Homo sapiens: one gene and its partner. The protein of the gene in region 2 purifies or fractionates together with the protein of the main gene of each other region. This does not show direct contact. Each region holds a gene or a part of one and is shown on either strand. Other genes may lie near its edges.

Region 1 (3,233 bases), about 57 Mb from region 2:
GGGCTTACTGACTCGTACCAGCAGAGGCATAAACATACCACGTGGAGAAAATGGCAGGTAGAGCGTTTTTGCAAAGCATGGAATCTGGATGAGGGCTGAGCTCAGGATGCTATTGGTCTTCGAATGCCGGAGTGGGAGCTGTTGAACGGTTCTAAGTAGGAGAGTGAAAGACCAGCATGGAGGAGAAGTAAGACTGGGCAGTGGGGTGGGAGGGGCCATAAAGAGAGAAGCAGCAGTGAGGCAGGAGTGGAGGCAGCATCATGGCCCTTGTGAGAGCCTGACCTGGGTCCACTGGAGAGACACTTGAGAGAGACTGTGGCTTGAGGGACACCGTCAAGAAACTAATTAGCAATGTCATCTGCCTTGAAAGATGTAGGCTTTTTTATCCACCGGTCAACCTCTTATGTTTTACAGATCCGGCCAGTTATTGAACAAACCTTTCCTTTTTCTAAAGTTCCAGAAGCCTTCCTGAAGGTGGAAAGAGGACACGCACGAGGAAAGACTGTAATTAATGTTGTTTAAATAAAAATGCAGTTTAGTGATTGTTGACGTTCTTATTTGGTGAGTGCCTGTGAGCCCAAATTTTTTTCTAGCCATCCCTTTCAAACATTTTTCCAGATTAGATTATACATTCCATGATACAAGCTTTAAAAAATAAACACACCATTTTGGCCAGTAATTGATATAAAAATATCAGCACTTGGATTTGTCTGTAGTCAGTAGAAATTCGAAGTTTTTTCAAGCTGTTCCTTCACACTGGCTTTGCAGGTTGTTGTGGCACCTTCTGTTTTACTAGCTTAAACTACTTTATTGTCTTTTTTGTTTTAGAGACAGGGTCTCGCTGTGTCACCCAGGCTGGAGTGCAGTGGCACAATCACAGCTCACTGCAGCCTTGACCTTAAGCGATTCTCCTGCTTCAGCCTCTCAAGTAGGTAGGACTACAGGTATGCATCACCACACCCAGCTAGTTTTTTTGTATTTTTAGTAGAGACAGTTTTGCCATGTTGCCCAGGCTGGTCTCAAACTCCTGGGCTTAAGTGATCCACCATGTCAGTCTCCCAAAGTTCTGGGATTACAGGCGTGAACCACCCTGCTGGGCCTGATCGTCTTAATGTACAATACTAAAACTTTCAGTGTATAGATGGATGTTGGCATGAAGAGATAATTTAAAGCTGGTTCCTTCTTGAATTCATCACTGAGCAGCTTTCTAACTGCCAAGGTTTCCTTTTTTGTTCCTCCACCATAATGTGGTCACCACAGCTCTTAAAGTTCTAAATCTCTTAGTGTCATATATAAAAATCTGCCTGGTGATTCATTTGTTTATGCTCTTAATATTGAAAGGTGAGAGCAGAGTTTCTAACTTTTTAAAACCCTTACATCTTGCATAAGGATTAGGCCTGTTTCGGCAATTGAAACATGCTTCTCTGAGGGCTTTTCCATGGAAATTGCAGCCTTCCAATGGAGCCCAAAGCTTGCCACTTTGATGTCAAATGTTTACATTTAGATATCTCTCCAATCAACCCATTGCAGTGTGCACTTCGAATATTCATTTACGGTAAGTGTTTTTACTTCCTAATATACTCATCCTCAGTATTGCACCTGATATGCTTGCTTGTAACTTTTGATGTAGACCTGTTTTGAGATTTCTGCTTGGTTTATTCCTGTTAGACACTCGTTTGGTAGCATGTATGTTAGATGTAGGCTTTTCTCTAAAATTGTTGGTCTGGTCTTACTACCGAGTTATTGCAAAAGAAAAAAAAATCTGATTTTCCAGGTGTAAATACCAGCTGCTCTTGACTTCCATCTGGAGCAGCCTCAGCTCTTTTCCTGGAGGGCTCCCAGGTGGTAGTGGGAGTAAAATACTTGAGCCAGGACCTCACTCATCCTCGTTTCCACTCAGAAACTATGGAGTTTGGAAAGAGAGTGGTCAGCAAATCTTTCTTGCTATTATACCAGCACCCCTCAAACCTGCTTCATCCTAATCAGACATTTGTTTCTAATCTGCTAGCTGACTCTCTTTGAAGGGTGAGATGAGGGCTACTGAATGGACTCTCAGATTTCATCAACATAGTTAACCAGAAGCAAGTTTATTTAAGAGATCAGTTCAGCACAGGCTACTGTAGAATGTCTTACCCCACCATATTGTAATGGTATGCACAAAAGGCCTAAAATCAGAGCTATATATCTAGGAACAAGACAGATATGTTGGATGCTGTTGTACATGCACCAATAATATTTTAAAACAAGACAAACTATTCCAGTGACCATAATTGCCTACCATAGACTCCAGAGAAGATCAGCATTTTAGAATTAGAAACACACTTGAATAGATGGAAAAGAAACAAGCTGTTCTACCTGTGACAAGAGCACCAGTATTGAGTGATGAGGACAAAAAGAGGAAGAATATATTCAAGGAAATGTTTAGCACTTTTGTTCAAAGCTAGAACCCACTGTTGGAAGAGCAGCGTATGGGCTGGTGTCTTGTCAGTTGTTAAGCAGTTTGTTTGCATTTTGAAATGCTTACTGCAGTTGAGGATTCCAAGATTGCTTGAAGATTGATTTGACTCCGGTCAAATCAAGACTTGACCAGCAACATCCCTAAAGGTCTCTTTTCCTTCACTTTCTGGGGATAATTAATTGCTGGTCATCCTCTTGAGCCTTTCACACCTCGTTTAGTGGCTATAGTGCCCCCAAGACCTGAGGCTGTCCACCAACAGCTATACCCTGAAGCATGGCTGCAGAACACTGCAGGGAAGGCAGCCCCATGCAGGCCATGTGTGGATGCAGGTGGATAGGAGGACAAGAAATTAGGCTAAAAAATCTGAGTTTAGCAAAAAAGTATGTAACATTGCTTCAGCACTTGTAGATGAGTAAGGATGGCTCATAAATTAGGTCATAATAGTGTTCCAGTAGCAGCTATAAGAAAGGCATTAAACAACCCTCATTTGTGACATTCTAGGGCAGCCCATGGATGAGTTAAAATAATTCAAATCCTGGCTGGGCGCAGTGGCTCAGGCCTGTAATCCCAGCATTTTGGGAGGCCGAGGCGAGTGAATTGCTTGAGCCCAGAGGTTCGAGATCAGCCTGGGCAACGTGATGAAACCCCATCTCTACAAAAAAAAAACAAAATTTGGCTGGGCTTGGTGATGTGTGCCTATAGTCCCAGCTACTTGGGAGGCTGAGGTGGGAGGATCACCTGAGCCTGGGGAGGTAGAGGCTGCAGTGAGCCGTGA
Region 2 (4,596 bases):
CTCTTTATATCAACTGTACTTGTCAGATATGTAGCTAACTTCATTTCTTTTAAATGATTAAATAATTATTCCACACTATTTATTAAAATAATTTCTTCACCTCTTTAAATGATTTTCACTGTATGCTTAATGTTGTTATATGCTAAACTCACAAACTCTAGATCTCTTTCAGCTATCAATTGCATTTTATGAATATAGCTATGGATTTTTGAAACAGAAACAGCTTAGATTACAAAAGTGTGTAATAGAAACAGCAGATGCTTTATTGTATTTTATTTCTTTATGTATGAACTTTAAAAAGAAAATAAAACAAACTTGCAGAAGAGTACCCAAAAATAAATGCTCAGCTAAGAGTGTTATTAAACATTAAGGACCTATGTAAACACTACCCAAGTCAAGAAATAGAACATTTCCGGCACACTTGTGCCCCCTTACAGTTACTATTCCTTTCACTCTTTCAGTTAAAAAAAAATTGTCTTGATTTATATTTTGTTTAAGCCTGCTCATTTTAAAGCTTTATGTGAATGCAACAGTACAGCACATATATTTTTACATCTGATTTTATTCACTCACAATATTGTATTTTGAGATTTGTTCTTGTTTTGTATAACTATAATTCTTCCATGTTCATTATCATATAGTGGACTGTTACATACATATACGACATTTTAGCCTTATCTGCTGATGAATATTCAGGTTGTTTCCCATTTTTGAATACTTTTGTACTTGACTCTTGGGGCACATGCTCAGGCATTTTTGTTGGGCATATCCCTAAGGGTGAAATACAATGGTAAGGTGTCTACATAGCTTCAACATTAATAGATAATGCCAAACAGATGTTCAAATAATTGGTGCTAACTTAAACTTCCAGAAGCATTGAATAATAGTTTCAGACATCTAAAATCTAAGAAATGCTTGATATTTTCAATTTAGTAATTATGATGTGAATGTAGACACCTCATATATCTTAACCCATTTTATATTTCATAATAAAATGCCAATTTTTCTGATTACTGAAAAAGGGTAACATATTTTCTTATGTTTACTGACCTAATAAATATCTATCATTTAGAAAGTGATCCATCTTTGGTTTTCTATTGGACAGTCTGTCTTTTTTATACTGTTTTATGTATGTTCTTTATATATTCTAGTTGTGTTCCTTTTATATGCTAAATGTATTGAACATATTTTTCTCCATATAGAGCTTGCTTTTTTTAGTTGGTGTTTTTTGACTGACAAAAGTTTCCAAATTTTAATGTAGTCAATACTATTTTTTCTACTGATTAAGAAATACTACTACTTGTATGTTAAAATTGTTAGTAAATTCTTTTACATTAACTTGCATGCTTTATTGTTTTGCCTTTTTCCATGCTTGCATCTCAGGTTATTTGGAATGAGATTTTGGATGTGGTAAGAGGCAATAGTCAAGCTTCATTTTTTCTTCATATGGCTATGCAATGGAACCAGCCCTATTTATTGAAAAGCTTATTTATTACGTTGTTCTGTAGTGCCATCTTTATCTGTTTCTGGGTTCTCTATTCTCCATTGATTTATTCAAAAATTTATATGTATTAGATAATTTCTGAAAAAATTACATCATAATGAATCTGAACAACAACAAAAAGAAATAGAAAATCTAAATGTTTCCAAATTCATTAAGGGAATAGAATCCATAATAATTAAGCTTCTATAGGGAAAATACCCAGCCCAGATAGGTTCACTGTTGAATTCTAAACATTTAAAGAAGAAATAACACCAATTATACACAAACTTTTCCAGATAATAGAAAATAAAAGGATGTTTCTAACTTATTTTATGAGATCAACAATACCTGGTACTAAAACTGATCAGGACATTACAAGAAAGAAAATTACTCATTAATACAGATGCAAAAAGTTTCTTGTTCACAATATTCTCCCATGATCTTTTTGATATCTGTAGCATATATACTAATATCTCTGATAAAGTTTAGTTTTGCCTTCACTTTTTCTTTACAGTTTTGTCAAAGCTTTATTAATTTTGTTAGTCTTTTCAAAAAACAAAATGTGGCCTTCTTTATTTTCTCTAGTGTCTGTTTTCTACTTACATCTAATTAAGTCTTATTACATGTTTGTAACTGTCATTTTAATTTGATTTTCTTTTTTAACTTCATCAGTTAAAATTTTAGTTACATTTTTAGTTTTAATTCTTTTTAGATATATGGATATAACTATATTAATTTCCTTGTAAACCCTACTATGAACTTTGATTTATCTCATTTTTATTACTATTCAGTTCAAAATATTTTCTAATATCCATTTGATCATCTTATAGATTCTGTTATTGATATTCCAAGAAATATACACTGCTGTTCTCAGTTCATTCAGTTTCTCTAGGGTCTAATTACTTTCAAGCTTTCACTTCTGAGACTTATAAATAAATTTAATATATTATAGTTTTCTGAACAATTTAAATATCTAGAAGAAAACTCAGTCCAAAAAAATTGAAAGATGTTGTCTTCATTATCTCATTTTATCTACATATTTGGAGAATGAGGTGGGTACAGTACACCAGTATAATGATATTATCAATGAGGAAACCAAGATTCAGTATAATAAAGACACTTATTTAATTGATAAGATTGCATTAAAAATTTGCATTCTACAATTAATAATTTATTATTTCTATTTCTAGTGAGAAGTTTTACACAAATATAACAGAGACATCTATCTTACCTGGTAGAATGAAGGTCACATAACACAGAAAATGGAGATAGTAAAAGATCCTCATTCTGTAGAAAGAAGTTGTTGAAAGACTTGATAACAGAATATAGAGACTATAGAACTTTCCAAAACCCAAAAGACGTTTACTATTTATAGTTTTCTCATGGAAGAGAAACTCTCGTTATCTGGAAATTGTTTTAATTTTGTGTGCCTATCTCTGCTCCAATGACTATGGCTGTGGGCAGAATTACCCAAATTGAAAACACTTGAAAATAATAGAGCTTTTGGAAGGAATCCCTCTGTGAATGATAGCTGTAAACATGGCATCTTCCTATCATTGCTAATTAATTAATGATCAATGCAAAGGGGCATCCATGGAATAAATTTAAGGTAAATACTTATTTACTACTTCAGAAATAAAACAGCTGAACATTGTCCATTAATCTGCTGATTACTTTTCAAAATTTACTGTAATCACTAATCTGGTGTGTCAATTCATCAATATGCCTGCATATCAAAAAATTTTAATTATATCATGTTATCCCATTAATTTCCCCCAAATTATTCATTTACAAGACCCAAATATTAAGCCTCACTTTTATCACTAATTTCTGTTACATTTTTGAGATGGAACTTAAATATTCACAAAACTCTTGTTTTCCTAGTAAAGCTCAATAATTCTCCACTTTTTTTAACATTTAAATATTTAATTACATGGACACAATAAATAATGAGAAGAGACTGTAATGAATAGCAATAATTTCCTACCCACTAGGCCCTCTAGTGATTACTAACATAAGAACAAGGATGTAGTTTATATCTTATCTTGGCTTACCAAACAGAGTACATCTCTTGGTTTCTACTAAGAAAATTACAAATTTAGATTACTTACACTCTTTTCTAGGCTATCTTTATCAAATATTTTGAAGTTATGTTAATTTTTTAAAAATGTTATAATCTTCAATAAAACACTTATATTTTTCCTATCAACTGTAGTTGCAATATTAAGCCTTCCTCACTTAAAATGAAAATATTAGCCCTCTTGCTAGTTACTCCAGCAATTCTCCCCACTTTTTACACCTCATTCATTTGTTACACATTTCCTTTCATCTTGTGTAAGATAATATGTGTACTCTATGTATAATTAGAATTAAAACATACACTTTATTTTTAGACTGTAGTACAATAAGTATTATCAATTATATTGCCTTTTTCTATGTGCCCAATATCACAACACTTGGGTTAATCAAAGAGAAATGCTCTTGGTTTCAAAGTCAAATTGACATTATTATTAACATTATTACCAATAATTTATTTTATATCTTTCTTTTCTTCTTTCTGCTTTCTTTTTTCTTAAGTGTTTTTTTGTGTTTTTATTTTGTTTTATATTTGGTTATGTCATTATTGAAGAGTATTTCTTCCTGCAGTTTTCTTTGTATATGTGGACAAAATATAAATAATAGGCATTCTCTATCGTCAAGTTTATCTGAGTAGCATAGGTGAGTCCTGAGATTGCTTCATTCTAAGATTTTTCTAAACCTGCCCTCCTGAGTTTAATTTACCGTGATCTGGATCTTGTGTCTTTTTTTGTTGTTGTTCTTGTTTTTCTCCCTCCAGAATTGTTTTCAGAAAAGATTTTTTTAAATTAGAATTTTGTTTCTAAAAAATATTTTTATTCTGCCCTCACATTTAGTTATTTGGATGTTAAATCTAGGTTCAAAATCATGTTCCTTCACAACTTTGAAGCTGTTACTCTACTAACATCCGGCATCCAGTCTTCCTGATGAAAACTCTAATGCCTGGATAGCTCCTTTTAAATGTTTTAATTTTTTCTCTCTTGATGTCATTAGGACATTGGTTTTCTGATTCAGTCTCCCAAACTTTATGATTCACA

What was found.
Region 1: the proteins of DEFB114 (region 2) and CRYBG1 purify together in Homo sapiens (affinity purification with mass spectrometry; one large-scale study listed by BioGRID and IntAct). This does not show direct contact.

What each region holds. Positions count from the first base shown.
Region 1 is NC_000006.12:106,569,285-106,572,517, reverse strand, and holds the end of CRYBG1 (beta/gamma crystallin domain-containing protein 1), read right to left. Parts: 3' UTR 523-3,233; downstream 1-522. Other genes in the region: RTN4IP1 (NAD(P)H oxidoreductase RTN4IP1, mitochondrial isoform 1 precursor), read left to right, coding at 415-522. UniProt on the Homo sapiens protein: May function as suppressor of malignant melanoma. It may exert its effects through interactions with the cytoskeleton.
Region 2 is NC_000006.12:49,961,337-49,965,932, forward strand, and holds the start of DEFB114 (beta-defensin 114 precursor), read right to left. Parts: upstream 2,829-4,596; 5' UTR 2,770-2,828; coding exon 2,715-2,769; intron 1-2,714. UniProt on the Homo sapiens protein: Has a salt-sensitive antimicrobial activity against Gram-negative bacteria, including E.coli, Gram-positive, including S.aureus, and fungi, including C.albicans.